Regions from separate parts of the Homo sapiens genome. Here all the other regions are reported to be linked to region 3. Evidence: microRNA targets listed by miRTarBase, many of them from high-throughput screens and not tested one by one. Region 3 holds a microRNA gene; each other region holds the end of a gene's coding sequence.
What was found. The annotated mature microRNA hsa-miR-122-3p reads AACGCCAUUAUCACACUAAAUA and lies in region 3 at 1,825-1,846, shown strand. An mRNA with a match to its seed (bases 2 to 7 or 8) in the 3' UTR can be bound and repressed. Matches are read on the target gene's strand: a 7mer-m8 pairs with bases 2 to 8, a 7mer-A1 pairs with bases 2 to 7 and ends in A, and an 8mer does both.

Region 1: the mRNA of PRPF38A is a reported target of hsa-miR-122-3p. Seed matches in the 3' UTR shown: 7mer-m8 at 4,030-4,036.
Region 2: the mRNA of MCAT is a reported target of hsa-miR-122-3p. The part of its 3' UTR that is shown has no 7-base or 8-base seed match.
Region 4: the mRNA of ZDHHC24 is a reported target of hsa-miR-122-3p. Seed matches in the 3' UTR shown: 7mer-m8 at 2,351-2,357.
Region 5: miRTarBase lists GXYLT2 as a target of hsa-miR-122-3p. The part of its 3' UTR that is shown has no 7-base or 8-base seed match.

Annotation. Positions count from the first base shown.
Region 1 is chr1:52,415,922-52,420,101 of GRCh38, forward strand. It overlaps PRPF38A (pre-mRNA processing factor 38A), which reads left to right. Exons shown (of 10, transcript NM_032864.4): 10 at 727-4,180. The coding sequence ends at 769. Among named protein-coding and RNA genes, the nearest start is that of PRPF38A, 13 kb to the left of the region's middle. RefSeq lists a silencer at 936-1,230.
Region 2 is chr22:43,129,208-43,133,387 of GRCh38, forward strand. It overlaps MCAT (malonyl-CoA-acyl carrier protein transacylase), which reads right to left. Exons shown (of 4, transcript NM_173467.5): 4 at 3,002-4,180. The coding sequence ends at 3,836. BIK (BCL2 interacting killer) reads left to right here. Exons shown (of 5, transcript NM_001197.5): 5 at 6-505. The coding sequence ends at 98. Among named protein-coding and RNA genes, the nearest start is that of MCAT, 12 kb to the right of the region's middle. RefSeq lists an enhancer at 1-240.
Region 3 is chr18:58,449,300-58,453,479 of GRCh38, forward strand. It overlaps MIR122 (microRNA 122), which reads left to right and starts at 1,775; the gene lies at 1,775-1,859. MIR122HG (MIR122 host gene) reads left to right here. Exons shown (of 3, transcript NR_170245.1): 2 at 10-241; 3 at 1,520-1,982. It overlaps MIR3591 (microRNA 3591), which reads right to left and starts at 1,853; the gene lies at 1,781-1,853.
Region 4 is chr11:66,536,002-66,540,181 of GRCh38, forward strand. ZDHHC24 (zDHHC palmitoyltransferase 24) reads right to left here. Exons shown (of 3, transcript NM_207340.3): 3 at 1-3,823. The coding sequence ends at 3,528. Among named protein-coding and RNA genes, the nearest start is that of ZDHHC24, 8.0 kb to the right of the region's middle. RefSeq lists an enhancer at 3,599-4,180.
Region 5 is chr3:72,974,698-72,978,874 of GRCh38, forward strand. It overlaps GXYLT2 (glucoside xylosyltransferase 2), which reads left to right. Exons shown (of 7, transcript NM_001080393.2): 7 at 280-2,218. The coding sequence ends at 462. Among named protein-coding and RNA genes, the nearest start is that of PPP4R2, 20 kb to the right of the region's middle. RefSeq lists an enhancer at 2,705-2,774.

The DNA of each region.
Region 1 (4,180 bases), not on the chromosome of region 3:
AAGCTCCACCTCCTGGGCTCACGCCATTCTCCTGCCTCAGCTTCTCGAGTAGCTGGGAATACAGGTGCCCGCCACCACCCTTGGCTAATTTTTTATATTTTTAGTAGAGACGGGGTTTCACCATTTTAGCCAGGATGGTCTCAATCTGACCTTGTGATCCGCCCACCTCGGTCTCCCAAAGTGCTGGGATTACAGGCATGAGCCACCGCGCCGGGCCTGTTTGGTGTACTCTTAACCTCTAAGAGGTCATTTCCTCAATGGTAAAATTTGGATAGTAATGCCTGACTCAAGAGTGTTGCTCTGAGTCAAAAAAATACCAAGCAGTTTAATGAATATTGAGTGTCAGCTCCATCCCCATCAATGTCAGCATACCAAGGTCTTTCTCAGGACTCCTTTTTTTTTTTTGAGATGGAGTCTCACTCTGTCATTGAGGCTGGAGTGCAATGGCCCAATCTCGGCTCACAGCAACCTCCACCTCCCGGGTTCAAGCAATTCTCCTGTCCCAGCCTCCTGAGTAGCTGGGATTACAGGTGCCCGCCGCCATGCTCGGCTAATTTTTGTACTTTTAGTAGAGACAGGGTTTCACCATGTTGGCCAGGCTGGTCTCGAATTCCTGACCTCAGGTGATCTGCCTACCTTGGCATCCCAAAGTGCTGGGATTACAGGCGTGAGCCACCGTGCCTGGCTGCTTCTTAATATAATTATTTATATGTGTTGCCATTTCAGGTCTAAGAAGAGCCACAAGAAGAGCCGGAGAGGGAATGAGTAATGGACTCAGTTTGGTTTTAGTCCACATGGCCTCCTGTGGATATAAGGATATCTGTATGTGGAAGGATTAAGATCTCCCCCAGGCAGCTATAAGAATATTTTAGTTTTTTTCTTATCAAGTTTCTCAACCTTTATTTTTAATGAAGGAGGTGCTGAGTTTTGTATCTTTTTAATCATAATCAACATCAGTTTTTGACCCAACTAACCTTGACTGTATTCAAACTTATGAGAGTATAAAGGATCTGGAGGTTGGGGATATGACTGACAAGGAAAGGCTGTGGCCACCTGATGACCCTTTCCCTTTTTATTAAACCGGACACACCTGTTTCCCATTTCGCTGTAGTTTAGTTTTTGGTTTGTTGTGGTTGGAACTGCTTTGAGAATCCTGGGATTTGTGCTGCTGCTGTTATTCAAAGATCAAAGGAGTAAAACATAGTTGCTCCTAACTTTTTTCCAGCAGCAGCAAGTGGTAATAAACATGAAAACTGGTTTGTAGCAGTTTTGAAAGAATAGAATGCATTCAAATGTAAGGCTGCTTCTGGATCATTAAAGCCAGTTTCATCAAACAGTTCAACAGAGAGCAGCACTTAATACCCTTTATACAGCCCATTTTTTCATAGTTTCATTTGTTCTTGCCCACAAGCTTGAAATCCAGGTTAAGGTATCCAGCCTTTATCATATAAGCATTGACATTATCCAGGCCTAGTCAGTAGCAGTAGGGTAACGGGATTGAAAAAGATTTGATGGAGAGGAAAGTATCTAATATTAGTCATGGTTTTGACCTAAATTGCTAGACAGTCGTGCCATTCACAAAGTCAGAAAATACAGCAGGAAGAGACAGCTTTTAGAGGGGCAGAGAATTAGAGGATGGTGGTAGTAATGAAAATGATGCATTCAGTTTAACAAGTTTAATTTGAGACAGCTATGGTATAGCTAAAAACAAAAGCCCATAAAGTTGGAGATAGGGACCAGAGTTTAACATAGCGATCTAGGCCAGAATTGACAATGTTTAAGTAATGGTGGAATCTGTCAATAAGACTTCCCAGAGTGTTAATATATATCAGAAATGCACACAACAGAACCATAGGCAACACCAACACAGGAAGAAATAGAAGTCACCTATTGAAAACTGGAATGGCCCATTCAGAAAGACAGGAGAATTAGGAGAGAGTGAGTGAAAGAAGCCAAGGGTCAAGAATGCAGAAGCAAAGGAAGGACTAAAAAGCCTCCACGGACATCGATAATCAAGAGATTATTAAGATCTTTGCTAGAAGAGTTCCTTTACCTGTACTTAACTCCCTTAAAAAGAGAAAAGTGATGGAATGACTTCTGCAACTGTAGTCCCAGCAGGAACTGTGAAGACCAGCTGCCCTGCAGGATCCAGTTTTTCTTGGGAGGTTGTATCTGGTCATAAGGTAAACATTCTATATATTCTATGCCTGCTCTAGAATTGAAAGACTTCAGCAGTATTAAAGCATTTTTTAATCTTATTTGAGCTTTCATATTCTTCAATGGTTCCTTTCGTAATACCTGAGTTAATAAAAGTGGTCTGAAAGAGCTCTTACGGTTTCTGATAGAACTATATAGGACTACCTTTTAAGATTAAATATAAGCATCTGTACGTAAATGTATTACAGTGTCATAGCAGTTATTTCTTTATGAAAGTGATCTAGGTAGAAAGAAATGTCTTCTGGCATGGACAGAAATGACCCATGGACCAACCAAGCTGTCATCCAGTACACTCTTAAAATAAAACTTTGTCTTAAAATATGTTTTAAAGTAAAAATAAACCCACGCACAAAGCCCAATAAATTTTAGTAACAGAAATAAACCTCCCTAAACAAACATTAAAACATACTTGTTTAGACATATGGTAATATGTGGACCAAAATTGAGGTACCACAGCCAATCAATAGCAGGAAAGAGAATGTCCCTATTCTTTAATTAGAAGAAGGAGGTAAGAGTAAGACATGTTGCATGTCTGTAGATATCGTTTTGATAAAATTACACAGGAGATGGAGCTTGAGGACAAACCTTGCTGTAAGGCTCTTTCTGTCATCTATGTGCTTGCCTATGGATGAAGCATTTTAAACTTTTTGACTACAGCATACATTTTAAAAACGTATTTTACATCTTACCTCTGTACACATCTGTATTCTGTACTGAGACAAATTTCAGGAAAGAATACTTACTATGCAAAGTGAATTCTGGTGTTTCCTACTTGTTAACAGTTTTTAATATTGGATGAAACCACTTAATCGATTTCACTTCCAATAATTTGAAATACACTGACTTAAAAGCTTTGCCATAGGGCACAATCGCCTTTTAATACTAAGAAAGTAAGGGAGATGTGTTCCAAGGGGCAAAAGAAATAATGCATTTTTGGCCAGGTGCGGTGGCTCACGCCTGTAATCCCAGCACTTTGGGAGGCCGAGGCGGGCAGATCACCTGAGGTCGGGAGTTTGAGACCAGCCTGGCCAACATGGAGAAACCCTGTCTCTACTAAAAAATACAAAATTAGCCGGGCATGGTGGCGCATGCCTGTAATCCCAGTTACTTGGGAGGCTGAGGCAGGAGAATCGCTTGAACCTGGGAGGCAGAGGATGCGGTGAGCTGAGATCGTGCCACTGCACTTCAGCCTGGGCAAAAAGAGCGAAACTCCATCTCAAAAAAAAAAAAAAAAGAAGAAGAAGAATGGGTTTGGTGAGAGGGTTCCAATATTAACAACCCAACTTCAAGCTCATTCCTCTAACCTCTTCCTGTTTGTTATTCTTCAGTAGACCGAAGTTTAAATAAGCATTATTTAGAAAAGAACGATCACAGATTGCCCACTCCCTCAAAAAGGTTAATGTGACAGAAATTCTCCACCTGCTCAAAAAAGACAGCAGACATGATCTCTTTAAAAAAAAAAAGTTCAAAAGAGATTAAGAGATGAAAAATAAGATTGGTGGAGTTTAAAGGCCTTATACTAGAAACCACAAAACATAAAACAGCACAGAGAAAATAGGCTGGAGGAAATAAAAAATGGAAAAGAGAAATATGTAGAATAAAGAAATATTCTGATGGTTTAAAAAGAATTGGCCGGGTGCGGTGGCTCACGCCTGTAATCCCAGCACTTTGGGAGGCCGAGGCAGACGGATCATGAGGTCAGGAGATCGAGACCATCCAGGCTAACACAGTGAAACCCGTCTCTACTAAAAATACAAAAAATTAGCTGGGTGTGCTGGCGGGTAGAGCTACTAGGGAGGCTGAGGCAGGAGAATGGCGTGAATCCGGGAGGCGGAGCTTTCAGTGAGCCGAGATCGCGCCATTGCACTCCAGCCTGGGCAACAGAGTGAGACTCCGTCTCAAAAAGAAAAAAGAATTAAATGGGGTCAGGATGGTCTCAGATCTTATAACAAGAAGGCAATGA
Region 2 (4,180 bases), not on the chromosome of region 3:
CACAGGTGTCCTGCGAACAGGTGCTGCTGGCGCTGCTGCTGCTGCTGGCGCTGCTGCTGCCGCTGCTCAGCGGGGGCCTGCACCTGCTGCTCAAGTGAGGCCCCGGCGGCTCAGGGCGGGGCTGGCCCCACCCCCATGACCACTGCCCTGGAGGTGGCGGCCTGCTGCTGTTATCTTTTTAACTGTTTTCTCATGATGCCTTTTTATATTTAAACCCCGAGATAGTGCTGGAACACTGCTGAGGTTTTATACTCAGGTTTTTTGTTTTTTTTTTATTCCAGTTTTCGTTTTTTCTAAAAGATGAATTCCTATGGCTCTGCAATTGTCACCGGTTAACTGTGGCCTGTGCCCAGGAAGAGCCATTCACTCCTGCCCCTGCCCACACGGCAGGTAGCAGGGGGAGTGCTGGTCACACCCCTGTGTGATATGTGATGCCCTCGGCAAAGAATCTACTGGAATAGATTCCGAGGAGCAGGAGTGCTCAATAAAATGTTGGTTTCCAGCAGTCTCTGGTCCTCTCTGGGGGGTTGGCAGCACCAGCACGGGCTTCCTCTCGCCCCAGGGAGGCACACTGTGTTGGTGGGGAGGGCAGGGCCTGTGTGCTCCTAATCAGATCCTTCCCTGCAAAAGGGGACCGCAAATGCTGCCTTGGTTTGGCCCGACGGTTTGCCTTCTCCCTTGTCCCGGTCTGTGGCCTAAAATCCACTGTTGGGGGTTATTTCCTTTGGGCTTTCAGTTCCTCTTTAGGGGATGCCTGCCTCTCCCTGCACAGACTCCTCACCACAGGGATGCAGCCGTGGCTCCGCTCACAGGGAGAGGTGTGGTGGGGATTGGGGAGCAGGACAAGGGGCACCAGGGGCAGGAGGGCCAGGACCCTGCTTTGTACCTTTGTAGGCTTGGTACCTGCCCTGGGCCTTGCCTCGTGCCATTTGTAGACCCCACCAGGCCTCCCTCCCAGGACATCGGCTCTGTGTCTGCCCTCCACCCCAAATGTCAAAGCTGGGCTGGGCCGGCCACCATTCTCCAGCCCCCAACCCCCCTCATCCCCAGAGCTGGGAGATGCAGCTGTTCATACCTCCCAGGCTGGCTGGGCAGACCCTGCATCCTGCTCACTCCTCCCTCCATCCTGGCCTCCAAACCAAAGGGGACCTCCAATAGGCTTTCCTGCCTCCTTATGTCTTCTCTCCCCAAGGTCTGGCCCTTTGCAGCCTTTTTTTTTTTTTTTTTTTTTTTTTTTTTTTTTTTTTAATTAAGAGACTTGGCTTTCCTGTGTTGCCCAGGTCGGCCACCAACTCCTGGGCTCAAGCAGTCCTCCCACCTCAGCCTCCCAAATAGCTGGGTCTGCAGGCACACACACCACTGCACACAGCCCTTTGCAGCTTTGAGGCCTGACTTCACACACCGTTTTTTTTTTGTTTGTTTTTGTTTTTTGTTTTTGAGATGGAGTCGGCCGGGCTGGAGTGCACTGGCGCGATCTCGGCTCACTGCAACCTCTGCCTCGTGGGTTCAAGCGATTCTCCTGACAGCCTTCCGAGTAGCTGAGACTACAGGCATGCACCATCACGCCCAGCTAATGTTTGTATTTTTATTTTGAGATGGGAGTTTTGTGATGGTTGCCCAGGTTGGAGTCCAGTGGCTTGATCTTGGATCACTGCAACCTCCACCTCCTGGTTCAAGTGATTCTCCTGCCTCAGCCTCCTGAGTAGCTGGGATCACAGGCATGTGCCACCAAGCCTGGCTAATTTTGTATGTTTAGTAGAGGTGGGTTTCGCCATGTTGGCCAGGCTGGTCTTGACTCCTGGCCTCAGGTGATCCGCCCACCTCGGCCTCCCAAAGTGCTGGGGTTGCAGGCCTGAGCCACCATGCCTGGCCAATTTTTGTATTTTTAGTAGAGATGTAGTTTCACCATGTTGGCCAGGCTGGTCTTGAACTCCTGACTTCAGGTAATCCACCCGCCTCAGCCTCCCAAAGTGCTGCAATTGCATGTGTGAGCCACCGTGCTTGGCTGGAGACCACTCTTGTTGGCCAGAGGTGGGCGGGCTTGTGAGTGAAATGTAAAGGCATCAGGCCAGGCCAGGATGTGCTCAGCAAAGACAGGCTGAGCCCTGATCTGGACAGAATGTTGTTCCATGGAGAACACTTTTTTTTCACAATGGAGTCTCGCTCTGTCACCCAGGCTGGAGTGCAGTGGTGTGATCTCAGCTCACTGCAACCTCCGCCTCCCAGGTTCAAGCGATTCTCCTGCCTCAGCCTCTCAAGTAGCTGGGATTACAGGTGCGCACTGCCATGCCCAGCTGATTTCTCTTACCCCTTCATGGGCTTGGATCTTGCCCCAGGCCATGAGGACAAGGGTAGTGCAGAGAGAGCAAGTGGTAAGGCCTGCTGTCCCTTACTGCTGTCCTCCTGGAGAGGCAGACCCCTCCCTTATTTGGGATTTTGTTCCTCAGAGCTGAACGTGGCCATCCTTCCTGCAGCGCTGCAAGAGAACCTGGACGTGGAGAGCCTGGGTCTCCTGAGGCTGCCATTGCTTGAAGCTTTCAGGGAAGGAGCTTCAAACATGCTCAGTACTTAAAATAATCAAGTTCTCTGTGCAATACAGATTTAAGACATAGTTCTTTCCAAAGAACTGTCGCACTCCCAGGGACGCGCATGCAGGCTGCAGTGGGAATCACATCGCATCGGCTTTTGTGTTTTCAGCCAGGGCTTCGAGACATGCAGGGTGTCTGGGGTCACAATGCCTGGAAGTGCTGCTGGTGTGTAATGGCCCGGCACCAGGGCAGCTGCCCAAGAGTGGGACATTCCCATATAAGGAAGGAGGGTTCTGCCCAAAGGCCAGCTGGGCCCTGCTGAGAAACACCAGAGAACTAAAAATGTGAAAATGAGGAACCCTATCCAGGACTTGACGTGTCTACACAATGGTAACATTTTAAGACAATCAGAGAGTTCATTCCCAATAATATTTTCCCACTATCTCTGTATAATGAACAACCACCCAAGCAGCTTGGAATGTCTCATACTTAATATTGGCGCAGGAGCTGCTCTGAGGACGGGGCATGGAGCCAGGGGTCAGCTCCGAGGCAGGTATGTGCTGTGCTCCCTCTGGCGCCCCGCAGACCCGCAGTCCCAGTGGGTGACCAGGGTGTTCCTCCATGGTTCCACCCCTAGGACCAGGGCCTCAGTCGCCCTCCCTACCTGGCACTCCCCACACCCCGCACCTCACTCAAGGACCTTTCTACCAGAACAGAGCGCACTCACTCTCTAGCACACAGCAGGCAATACATATCTCTTGGGTATGTCCATAAATGTGGGCCTCTGTCTCCCAGCTGTCAAGTGAGGAGGTGAACAAAACTGCCAAGGCCAACTGGGTTCTAAAACCTTTCAGATTTGTGACAAAGGAGCCCTGGGGGGCAGGCTGGGGGTGGTGGAGGGGCTCCCCTGGCACTGGCTGAAATTGAGGCCACACCAGCATGTTCTCAGCACTCACAGAGCAGGACAGGCTGCAGCAGCCAGTCCTCCCCTTCCCGCTGAGATGGCACACCTGCCTATGGTGCAGGGCTGGCAGAGGCGGGGCCAGGATTCTAGCTTCCCCACACACCAGCCCTGTGGCATCATTCTTCCCAACGTCCAAACGTTTTTCCAAGGGGGAGAAATGGACTGGGTCATGTAAAGAAATACTCATTTTTAGGGCTTTTTATGTGGCCTTCAAAGCACGTTGCAAACAAATCCCTTTCACTCCTCAGAGGAGGAGCCATTAGGAAGGTAGGGGGCGACAGGCACAGCCTACAGCCTCTCCTCAGGAGGACAGAGGGGGTCATCGCATTTGAGCCCCCTGCAGTCATCTCGGGGGCTCCTGAGGGTCCAGGTCCACATGTTCGAGGGTCTGCAGCACATCCACGGCGCTGTAGGACTTCCAGGCCTGCATGTTACAGCTCTTCAGGATGGCTCCCAGCTGCCTGCCAGGGCCTACTTCGAAAGTTTGGGGGAACCCCCTGCCCTTTTTCCTTTCGTATATGGCATGCATCGTCTGCTCCCACTTCACTGGGGAGACCAGCTGCTGGGCCAGCAGCTTGTGGATGTGCCCGGGATGCCTGTATCTATGCGCGTGGACGTTGGAGTAGACAGAAACCAGAGGCTTCTTAATGTCGACTGCCTTTAAAGCTTGCGTCAGGGGCTCCACGGC
Region 3 (4,180 bases):
ATTTTGCAGATTATTCAAAGCCAAAAGCCAACAGAGCCCCCATGGAGAAGTGGAGGATGCTCAGATACTGCTATGGAGCCCTGAGAAGTGAAATGGGTCCAAGCCCTTGCCCAGGATAGAGCGCTCCAAGCGCATCCTCCGGGGACCCTTTTAATCAGTGAATTGTTCACCTCTCACTGTTTCTTCCCAGCAGAGCTAAGAGACTTCTAGAGCCTCTTGTGGATGGTCAGCGATAGCCCTGGTATGACCAGGAGGTGGCGATTTCTGTTCTAGGTCCCTCAGCAAAGACTAAGCAGGACAAGCCTGGCTACTGTGTTAGGAGGAGCTGTAGGGAAAGGGAAGGACAAGATGGGCCACCACATGCCTGTGTCCACTGCTGGCCACACCCAGAGTGCTAGGGGTTTGTGGCAGTGACTGGGGCCACCTAGAGCAGTTCTAGGGTTCGTAGTCATTCTCTCTGAGTCATGGAAAACTGCCCAGGAGGCGAGTCCCACCTAAGAGAGTATGTGTAGCACTGGCACGGCCTGCTGCCTTGCAAATGACCACATTTCATGAAAGAAAGCCAGGGCCACAGACAGGAACCAAAGGAAATCAGTCACTTAGGGGAAGATAACGAATCCACAAAGTGAAAAAGGGAAAGAAAAAAAGAGGCAACTTCAACACTCCAACCCATGGGAGCAGAACGACTTTCAGCTTTCGCAGGGGGATAATCACTGCAAGTCCAGCTTGAAGAGGGTGATTTCAGGATCTACATGAGAATAAGGCGCAATTTTTTTTTTTTTTTTCTGAAAAATACGGAAGGGTTCATTTACAGCTGTTAAAGATGGGCCGGTTTTAGGGCTAAAGCAAGACTCTGGTCAGATGTTAACAACTCAGTTATCCTGGGGAAAAAATAACTGGCTCCCAACCCTTTCCCTTTTCAGCATTTGCAGGAAAAGAAGGAGTAGGTAAAATGCTTTATTTCCTCTCATTCTCCATGGTGGGCAGGAGTTCACATAACAATTATAAACCATCTTTAACAGGAAAGCCAAGTAAATCCTGTAGGGATTTATTTGGAGCTCCCTTTTTGCTAGAAAATGAGTATCATGAACTAAAAATGGACTCGTTTCCTCTCTCTCCATCTTCCTCTCTTTCTTCTCTCCCCTCATCTCCCACCCACCGCCATGGTGGAAAATGACTGTGGTCAAGAAGATTGAACATTTGAGCAAGACCAGATGCCTTTATATCCAATAGATGCCACGGAGAGTAGATCACAACACATCTAACTGCTGTATCCCCATATAAAATAATTTTAATTTTCCTAGACTGCAGAATTGATCACATTTACTGATGATGGATTGGGAAGTAGGTGAAGAGGTGAGAGTTGGAGAGTATCCATTCATTCGGCCAGATTATTCTCATTTATAATGTAGTCTTCCAATAAGTATTTATTTCCAGAAATCTATTCCCTCTAGAGATTCTTTCTCTCTCAGCCATTTTAGAAAATTGTTGCAAACAGAGTTCCTGTCCATTTTCACAGGAAGTTTTTGCAGAAGGGGTTTGCTGGGTGGCAGTGGAACACAGGCAGTGGACCCCTCTACTACTCTACTGTTCCAGAACACAGAAGCCTTTCATTGAGAGTGTTCAGCTCTTCCCATTGCTCAAGATGCTTGTACCCGTGATGCTTCTTTTCTCTGCTTAGGTCACAATATGTGGAGCTGACAAGGTTCCCCTATTATCAGTGACAATGGTGGAATGTGGAGGTGAAGTTAACACCTTCGTGGCTACAGAGTTTCCTTAGCAGAGCTGTGGAGTGTGACAATGGTGTTTGTGTCTAAACTATCAAACGCCATTATCACACTAAATAGCTACTGCTAGGCAATCCTTCCCTCGATAAATGTCTTGGCATCGTTTGCTTTGAGCAAGAAGGTTCATCTGATATCAGTCTTCTCAATCTTGTGTACTTACTGAATAAAGTCTGGCTCTTTTGCACTCATAACCAATATGGTTAGCTGAACCCTGCCTCTCACATGCTGTTGTTACATACCTTAGCTGGTGATTAATTTTCTTGTTTTCCCAAGTCAATAAAAAGATTGCAGACCAGGCACGGTGGCTCACGCCTGAAATCCCAGCACTTTGGGAGGCCAAGGCAGGCGGATCACTTGAGCTCAGGAGTTCAAGTCCAGCCTGGGCAGCATGGTGAAACCGTGTCTCTACAAAAACTACAAAAATTAGCCAGGCATGGTGGCATGTGCCTGTAATCTCAGCTACTTGAGAGGCTGAGGTGGGAGGATCAATTGAGCCCACGAGGTTGAGGCTGTAGTGAGCTGTGATGGTACCACTGCACTCCAGCCTGTGTGACAGAGCAAGATCCTGTCTCAAAAAATGAAAATAAAAAGATTGCAGAGTTCCTCAGAGCCCCCAACACAAGGCCAGGCACGAGGTAATCATTTAACCCATGCTTATAGACTTAAAATGAATAGTTAGGAAAGTGTTAGACGCAGAAGGCTAAGACTGGGCTAAATCTATGTTATGCAGACAGACCGCAAGCTTATAGGTACAAAATTAAGGTGTGTGGGTCCTTCTCTTTTCGTCGTTAAAAAATCCAACTTTCTAATAAACTTACACATGGTTTCACTGACGTTTCAGAAATTCTAGAATATGTTTGATTTCTACTGATTTCAATCAATTACTAGGCTGATTACTGAATTCGTACACTAGGCCTTTCTTCCTCTTGCATCAGTGAATTACCATCAGAAAATTGTTTATGAAGCATGTGTGAGCTGCCATAGCAAATCTGGGACCCATGCAGTTTCTAGGACAGTTGGCCCAGCCAGGTGCTCTGGTTTGGAACCCATTCTGTCTCTGAGAGGTGTCTAAAGTCAGGAGTAGGTTTCGTTTGTGCCAGACTAAAGCTTCCCTCCCCAGGCTTGGTTAAATGAAGTAGGACATGTTTAATCAAATAGACAGGGTTAGATCAACCATCAGAAACAAATTCAACCATTCAACCATTCACTTATGAAATAAATATGTGTAGAGACTACCGTGTGCCTGACACTGTCCTAGGCATTGAAGACACTTTTAAATTAAATGTGTCTGATGTTATTTCCAGAGATGGGCATTCACTGGCTCGCATTATATTTTGGGACCATTGTAATTGTTCCAAACGGGAGCCAAATGAGCAAAACTTTGCGAAATAATTCTGAGTCCCTTGCTGGAAAGCCTCACCTGAATGCAGCCCACACATTTATGATACACTACAAAGGCTTCAAGGTCATGAGATGCCTCTGTCCAAAGAAGAAGAAGAGCACCCCTGCCTGCCCTGCATCTCTTACCACCTCTCATTTCTTCCCTCCTGGCACCATCTACTGTCAAGAAGAGAATCAGACTCCCTGAAATAATTGAGACACTGACATTCCTTTTTGTGTGTATTTTTTTGGCAAAGGCTCTAATTGAACAGGCATTAATAGAGGGCTCTACTGTTATACAGATCACGCTCATGCACACTGTATTAGTCTGTGTTTTCATGCTGCTGACAAAGACATACCCGAGACTGGGAAGAAAAAGAGGTTTAATTGGACTTACAGTTCCACATGGCTAGGGAGACCTCAGAATCATGGCGGGAGATGAAAGGCACTTCTTACGTGGCATCAGCAATAGAAAATGAGGAAAAAGCCAAAGTGGAAACCCCTGATAAACCCATCAGATCTCGTGAGACTTATTCACTATCATGAGAATAGCAGGGGAAAGACTGACCCCCATGATTCAATTACCTTTCCCTGGGTCCCTCCCACAGCACGTGGGAATTCTGTGCGATACAATTGAAGCCGAGATCTGGATGGGGACTCAGCCAAACCATATCACATGCCATTTCATTTGATCCATACAACATGGGGCAAAGATGATCGGTTTGACAAACAGAGTCTAAAGGGTTCTGGAATCGTCTGGTCCTCCAGCCACAACTCAACATGGATCTCTTAAGTCTAAAGTTCTGTCCTGTACCTGCAGCCTCCTTTGGCCTAGTTATTTTGTGAAATCTCATGCTTCACAGTCGAATCTGTGTAGAACCTGGGTTAATCACGCCAGTATGCGATCAATATCCTCATCTCCCCATCTGCTTTGTCAGTGGATTCTGAGGGAAAACCTGTAAATTAGAGAGGGATGAGCCATATAAGAATGTCTCCTTGTGAGTGTTCATTGT
Region 4 (4,180 bases), not on the chromosome of region 3:
AAGTGAAAAGGCAAACTGTAAAAGAATAAACTCTGCATGATTTCATTCATATATTTGAAAACATGCAAAGCCAACACAAACACATTAATAAAACTATAAAGCAAAGCAACGGAATGACTGAAACAGGACAGTGTCTCCCCCACCAGGAAGGGGCAACAGCAGGAACTTCGAAGGAAATGGTAACCTTCTCAAATGCAGTGGGGCTGTTTCCTCTTAATTTTTATAAATGTGTTCTTGTAGCTCCTCACTAATTAAAAACAACAACAACAACGAGTCCAGGCATGGTGGCTCACACCTGTAATCCCAGCACTTTGGGAGGCCAAGGTGGGCAGATCACCTGAGGTCAGCAGTTCAAGACCAGCCTGACCAACATGGTGAAACTCCATCTCTACAAAAGTACAAAATTTAGCAGGGCATGATGGTGGGTGCCTGCAATCCCAGTTACTTGGGAGGCTAAGGCAGGAGAATCGCTTGAACCCAGGAAGTGAGCCAAGATCGCGCCATTGCACTCCAGCTTGGGCAACAGAGAGACTCCATCTCGAAAAATAAAACAAAACACACAAAAAAACATGAAAATAAGATATTGTGGGCTGGGCGCAGTGGCTCATACCTGTAATCCCGGCACTTTGGGAGGCCGAGGCAGGTGGATCACCTGAGGTCAGGAGTTCCAGACCAGCCTGACCAACATGGAGAAACCCCGTCTCTACTAAAAATACAAAAACAATTAGCCGGGCATGGTGGCACATGCCTGTAATCCCAGCTACCGAGAGGCTGCAGCAGGAGAATCGCTTGAACCCGGGAGGCGGAGGTTTCGGTGAACCAAGATCGCATCATTGCACTCCAGCCTGGGTAACAAGAGTGAAACTCTGTCTCAAAAAATAAAAAGAGAAAGAAAGAAAATAAGAAATTGTGGAGGGCGAGGGATGAAACAGGACAAGGTGAGTCTGCTAATGCGTCTGTGCAGCCCAAAGTGCCAGGTACACCAAGTTCCTCCTGTCATTAAAAAATAGCAACAGAGCATGCCTGTTACAAAAACAACCAGCCAAGCAGCTCAGATCTTTGTGGGCATGGGCAGAGCCTGTCAGAGGGTGGGTTTCTCTGAAGGTTCTTGGGGGTCAAGCATGTTCTTTCATGGGAGGCCCCCCAGCAGTATCTATGGACTTTCACTTAACCCCATTTTTTGGTCTAGCCTCTCACCCACCCCTCCCCAGTACGCCTAAGACCCGAAGCTTCTCTGGTTCCATTTATCCTTCAAATAATCCTCACGTCACACCACCCCACCCAGAGGTGTAGCTGCTGGCTGCATGATGTGGGTGGGGTGTGGGTGGGATGTGGGGGAGCGGCACCCCACTGATCCTTACATAGACTTTCCATCGGTCCCCATTGTTGGCCGAAGCCTCACCTCACCCTCCATGGTCCTGGTGGAGTTCCTGAGCCCCTCCGGGGCTCTGGCAGGTAATTCCACTTGCCTTTTGGCCCCACCTTTTGGGAACACATAATTTCAGCTCTTAATTCTCCATCCACTTTCCATCTTTGAAAATGTCAGCCAGGCGGCCGGGCACGGTGGCTCACACCTGTAATCCCAGCACTTTGGGAGGCCAAGGCGGGCAGATCACGAGGTCAGTAGATCAAGACCATCCTGGCCGGCCAGGAGTGGTGGCTCACACCTGTAATCCCAGCACTTTGGGAGGCCGAGGCAGGTGGATCACAAGGTCAGGAGATCGAGACCATCCTGGCTAACACGGTGAAACCTCGTCTCTACTAAAAATACAAAAAATTAGCTTGGCGTGGTGGCAGGCACCTGTAGTCCCAGCTACTTGAGAGGCTGAGGCAGGAGAATGGCGTGAACCCAGAAGGCGGAGCTTGCAGTGAGCCGAGATCGTGCCACTGCACTCCAGCCTGGCAACAGAACAAGAGTCTGTCTCAAATAAAATAAAATAAAATAAAATAAAATAAAATAATAAAAAATTGTCAGCCAGGCACGGTAGCTCACGCCTGTAATCCTAGCACTTTGGGAGACGGAGGTGGAGGCAGGTGCCAGGAATTCAAGTTCAGCCTGGCCAACATGGTGAAACCCTGTCTATACTAAAAATACAAAAAAATTAGCTGGGCATGGCCAGGCGCAATGGCTCACACCTGTAATTCCAGCACTTCGGGAGGCCAAGGCGGGCGGATCACAAGGTCACGAGTTTGAGACCTGCCTGGCCAACATGGTGAAACCCCCGTCTCTACTAAAAATACAAAAATTAGCCAGGAATGGTGGCGGGCACCTGTAATCCCAGCTACTCGGGAGGCTGAGGCAGGAGAATCGCTTGAACCCAGGAGGCGGAGGTTGCAGTGAGCCGAGATCACGCCATTGCACTCCTGCCTGAGCAACAAGAGCAAAACTCCGTCTCAAAAAAGAAAAAAAAAAAAATCAGCCGGGCATAGTGGCGGGTGTCTGTAATCCCAGCAACTCGGGAGGCCGAATCACTTGAACCCGGGAGGTGGAGGTTACAGTGAACCGAGATCGTGCCACTGCACTCCAGCCCCGGCAACAGAGAGAAAAAAGAAAATGTGGTCAGGCTCTGTGTTCTACTGTCTTCCCTCCTGTTTTCTTTCCCTTTGTATTATTTTTGATTTTCTTTACTATCATCTTAGAGAGATCCTAAGAGAAAACTGAGACGAACACATGTGTTTAGGCCTGCCATGTGGAAATGGCGGTCTCTATTCATTCTATTTACACGGAAACATTTAACAAGCAGCTCTTGAGGAGGCCAGAGAGGTGCAGGCCTAGCCCTGTCAGCACCACCCTCCACAGATGCCCAAACAGCCCCAGCGCATTTCTTTACCTTGATTTCTTTCCTACTCATTTCCTCCAGCTGTGCAAGGGTAAAGGCAAAAGCACAAAGACCTGGGTTGGACCCTGCCTCCATTTGCCGCACCATGATCTTACCACATGGATTCTTAGAGCGTAACTGCTGCCCCATGGACCAGGTTAGCTAAGAGAGGTTCCATGAAACTGCTGTTGCAGAAATGCTTCTAACTATAAAATGCCAAACCTGGGAAAGAATGTTTGGATTCTCATAGCCTGGATCAGTAGGACACTGCCTTGGCGTGCTGGTGCCCCACCCCCAACTCACCCAGGCCAGGGGAGGTAGAGCCCCAGCCCCTGAGACCCTCAGGCATCCTGCAGTTTCCAGGCCCTACAGAGGGTCCCAGAAACAGCCCCAGCAACAAAGTGAGGGGCCAGAAACTATGCAAAGATGGAGGGAGGCTGAGAAACAAGTCAGTGCTTTATTAACCTGGCAAAGGGGCAGCTAGGCGGCCTGAGCAGCCCCTGCCAGACCCTCCTCTGCACTCCTCTGCCTAAGTCACGGCCCAAGCCCTGGACACGTAGGAGTGTAGGCGGGCAGGGGCAAGGCCAAGGAAGGGGTGGAGTTGTCCAATGCAGATGTTAAGGTCCAACCCGACTTCCTTACTGAGTCTAGGTGTGGGGGCCCCCCTCTCACCCCTTCCTCCCTGCACAGCTCTGGCTCTTCCTGGAGTCAGGAGGCTGTGTGTCCCACATCTGCTGTGGTCTGGAAGGTGATCCCATCCCCAGGCAATGGGGAGGCCAGGAAGGGCCAGAGCCAGACGAGGGCCCAGCGGGGCCCCAGGGCTGCCTGCAGGTTGTGGCAGGGACCCAGGTCATAGGAGTGCTGGCCCCGAGCCCACTCCCATGTGGTCTGGCCCCGCAGCAGCAGCATCCCATGGAAGAGCAGCCCAGCCCCGCACAGCAGCGCACCCGCCACGCACGTGTCCGTCACGAAGGCCAAGGCAAACTGTGCCAGAGACACTCTGCCTGCAATAAAAGAGCAGAGAGGGTCAGGGAGGGGCAGTGGGGTCCGGCTTTCCTGCCACCTGCTCCCCTCCACCACAAAGCAGGGCTCATTCCTCCGCTCAGCAAACCCTGTGTCGATACTCGCTGGCCAGCCCGTGCTGGGTGACAAGAACGCACTGGTAAACTGGGCAGACGCAGCCCCCTACTTGGGATACGGCTTCATTCCTGCATCACAGACTTGGTGAGCACCTCCTCAGCCCTGGAGGCGGTGCCAGGCACTAGAGGGTGTCTCTGCCCTTGGGGAGCTCACAGACATTAAAGAGGCCATTCTTGGCTGGATGCGGTGGCTCACACCTGTAATCCCAGCACTTTGGGGGG
Region 5 (4,177 bases), not on the chromosome of region 3:
TCGGCCTCTCAAAGTGCTGGGGTTACAGGTGTAAGCCACCATGCCTAGCCTTTTTCTTTTTAAAGAGGTAAAGAAACTGAGGTTCGGAGAGTTTAAATGATTACCTGGGGTTGCACAGCTGAGACAGGATTTTAAGTTAGATCCTCAAAGGTCTTTTCACTTGTCCAAACCTGTGCCTGTGGGCTTATCGTAATTCCTGTGTCATTTCTTAGTAAAAATGATCTGCATTTAAAATGGCATTTCCGTTACTAAATAAACTTTTTTTTTGTCATCTTTCAGTTTCCCTTTCAAGACAATCTCTTTCAATCCATGTATTACCCCCTTCAGCTGAAGTTTTTGGAGACTGTGCACACTTTATGTGGACGAATCCCGCAAGTTTTTCTGAAGCAAATTGAGAAAACAATGAAAAGGGCTTATGAGAAACACGTCATCATCCATGTTGGCCCCAACCAGATGCACTGAATATTTTGTCTTGTTGCAAGTCAATTAGGTGTCTTGTGACCAAGGAAATACTAATCTCTAAGCTGCCTGGGTCTTTTTGTGTGAATATTTAATGGTGCTCCATGACTGTTGAGTTTTAAAAACCTCGTTAAATTTTGCCAAATCAGTTGCCCCCAAAAGGGAATATGCTTTTCCTTATTTTTTTTTCTAAAATGCTATTTATCTCTAAGGAAAAAAAAAAAAGACTATTACTCATTTAACATTGTTTAAGCAGGTTGAGCTAGCTGTGAAAATAGCTTTTGTGAGCCTTCTAATTCCTAAACGTCTGAGACCATTTCAGTGGCACCTGAGGTGTTATATTGATCTAGCATTCCTGAGACTCTTTCTATGCAACTGACTCCCCCACACCCGTGTTATAAAAGTAATACACACTTTTGAAACAGAGAGACACACTTGTAGAGCATATGGGTCAAGGGCTCAACATCAAGATTAGATTAGCCATAATCCTATTGACCAGTGGAAAAGATTGTTTCCATTTTAAAGCAGTTCCTTACAACCTTTTTTCTCTACTTTTGCATTTTCCACTCTAACACACATCTAAAACAGGTAATCTCAGTAAAAGCTGGCCTTTTTGCTGAGATTTTTATGTGGGAGACTAAAATATTAGATGAGATGATTATGTGTACAGAATTTTATTTAAAATACATCTGAGAGAATCATTCAGATACTTGGGTAGTGTTAAAGGATGAAGCATGTATCTGGGGGTATTTCTTCTTTTTCTTTCTTTCTTTTTTTTTTTTTTTTTTTTTTTGAGACGGAATCTCACTCTGTAGCCCAGGCTAGAATGCAGTGGCAGGATCTCGGCTCACTGCAGCTTCCACCTCCTGGGTTCAAGTGATTCTCATGCCTCAGCCTCCCCAGTAGCTGGGATTACAAGTGTGTGCCACCACACCCGGCTAATTTTTGTATTTTTAGTAGAGACACGGTTTTACCATGTTGGCCAGGCTGGTCTTGATCTCCAGACCTCAAGTGATCTGCCTGCCTCAGCCTCCCAAAGTGCTGGGATTACAAGTGTGAGCCACTGCACTCAGCCAATCTGGGAGTATTTCTAAAGAAAAAAATTACTTTGATTTGTGGAGGACTAAATCATAATACATTTCTATGCAACAATAGCTTCTGAGAGGAAATTCAGGAATGTTTGTGTTTACCACAGACAAAAACATTTGATCTGTTAATCATCAGTAGCTGTGGTCATCTCTCTTTCTTAAACTCTTGGGCAATGGGTGGAAATCAGAGACCAACTTCAAATTTAATGTGTAAAAAACAAATAGTTCAGCTGCTTCTATTGGTAAGAAAATTCAACTTCCTACCAGCCTTAGAAAGGTCTCTTTAAACAATTTCTTTCCCCCTAGGGTTACCTAGCTGGTCCATACAGGTTTTATCACCTCACTGCAAGGAGGAAGTTGAATATTCTGTTCCCCACGGGGATCTGGCTTAATCCCTAGTTGCTCATATAGTTGGTATCAGCATAGCAATATTTTGCATAATGCTTTATTTTTCTCAAATGACTATTGCATAGATGATCTTGATATTTGCAACAGCCTAGTGGATTTGGTAGGGTCCTGAATCATCTCTATAAGGCAAACAAGGAAATTGTAACACAAAGAAATAAACATATTGAATATAATTGCTATTCTGTAAGACATACAGTCTGTGTAAGATGTATCTTATTTACAGAGACATTTTTGAAAATTAAAATATTAAATACTTTTTGTTATATAGAGACAATGATCTGGAAGTATAAAAAGAAAAATATTATCTTGTTGATGTAAATATGATATCCTTATATATATTAGAATCCAATAAGATATCATGGGCGCAATATTAGCAAAAAAAAGTCAGTCTTACCCTGAAAAAAAAATAGATATGAAAATCTCAGCACTACACAGAAATGTTTAGATGTCAATCAGTTTTGGTATGCAGCATTATTATAGTAGTAACAAATTTAAATCTAAAATTTTAGAGTAATACTTTCCTTCTGATCAGTTGCCCTGTGGTTATTTTTGTTAAGGAAACTACCATTATGACGGGAAACTCTTATTTTTGCTGTTATATTTTGTTTCCTTATTTCACCACTAGAGGTGACATCATTATTTTGTAACTTTAGTACTAGGCTTTCCATTTGTGGTATGGACACGTATGATATGGAGCAATTTTTGAATTGTCTTTCACATAGGGGAAATTGCATCTTATATACCCATAAATTGGGTTTTAGTGAAAGAGCCAGGATGGAACATAATTTCCTAACTTCCATCCTAGTTTCCTTTCTACTTGTTCAGAATGGCCAGTGAAACACACAAATGGCACTCAGATTTGTTGATGGCTCACCAACTCAAAGAGGTTCCTTCTCTCCTTTGATAAGTCCCACAAAAACATCTACTGTAAAGACTTGAAATACAATGCCTTTCTTTTTTATGAGAGCCAAGTTTACCCACAACTCTCAACTACCAGTACTGGTCTGACTGTGCAGAAAAGGGTTGCCCGCAAAGGTCAATGATATCACCCTAGAACATTCTAGAATGATGAATTTTGAGAATGTGAAACCTTAGAACCTCGTGCGGTTGTCTGCCTTGGAATTCCTGTGCTGTATCCTGAAATTTTAGCTGAATTTGGCAGAGAATTCAGAGAAAATTTGCTTTTCTAATCCTTGCTGCCTGAAAGTGCTAATTATTTTCCATAGCTAGGATATTACCATGGAGCAATATTTTCTCTGCCTTTGATAACTCCCAGCAAATTACTACATTAACCGCCTTTGAAATCCAGGAGCCACAAATTTTAATTCAGTGGCCTGCTAAAACATGCACTCTCTGGTTTAAAGTTTGCCAGAGGTGGTGCTGCCCCATATGCCACATTGAATACTGGGAAGGGCCGGGCACGGTGGCTCACGCCTGTAATCCCAGCACTTTGGGAGGCCGAGGCGGGCGGATCACGAGGTCAGCAGATCAAGACCATCCTTTCGAACACGGTGAAACCCAGTATCTACTAAAAATACAAAAAATTAGCCGGGCGTGGTGGCGCCTGTGGTCCCAGCTACTCGCGAGGCTGAGGCAGGAGAATGGCGTGAACCCGGGAGGCGGAGCTTGCAGGGAGCCGAGATTGCGCCCCTGCACTCCAGCCTGGGCGACAGAGCGAGACTCCGTCTCAAAAAAAAAAAAAGAATACTGGGAAGAAGGTGGGCCAGTTCTCTCCTCTCCTCCTGCCCTGCCTTTTCTCTCTTCCCTCTCTTTTCTTCTTTACTCATTTCTTTTTAATTTCTGTTTAATGCATATAACTATGGACTTCCATTAAAGAAGAAAAGAGCACTTTCTGATAGCAAAAGGTGACAGTATTTTTATATGCATCGAGATTGAGGTTTTTCAACAGCAGTGTCACTGGAAATGCTGCCAATATTTTTCTTGCTGAGTGTTTCTCCAATATAAATCTCAGTAATCATGGCTTACATTGAAAATTCTAATATTTAAACAATTAACTGGCTAGAAAAGCAATTTAAGTTTTTCTTCAACTTCCAAAATGGCAATTTAGCACTTTGGATACAAAGCTCCAAGCTTTACTATTTATGGGATATGTCTAGTTCATATTCAGTGCTTCCATTGCAAATTATTGTGACTTTTACCAAATTTGGTATTGAAATGGGTATTTATATGGACTCAGACGTTTGAGAGTATTTCTTTTATTT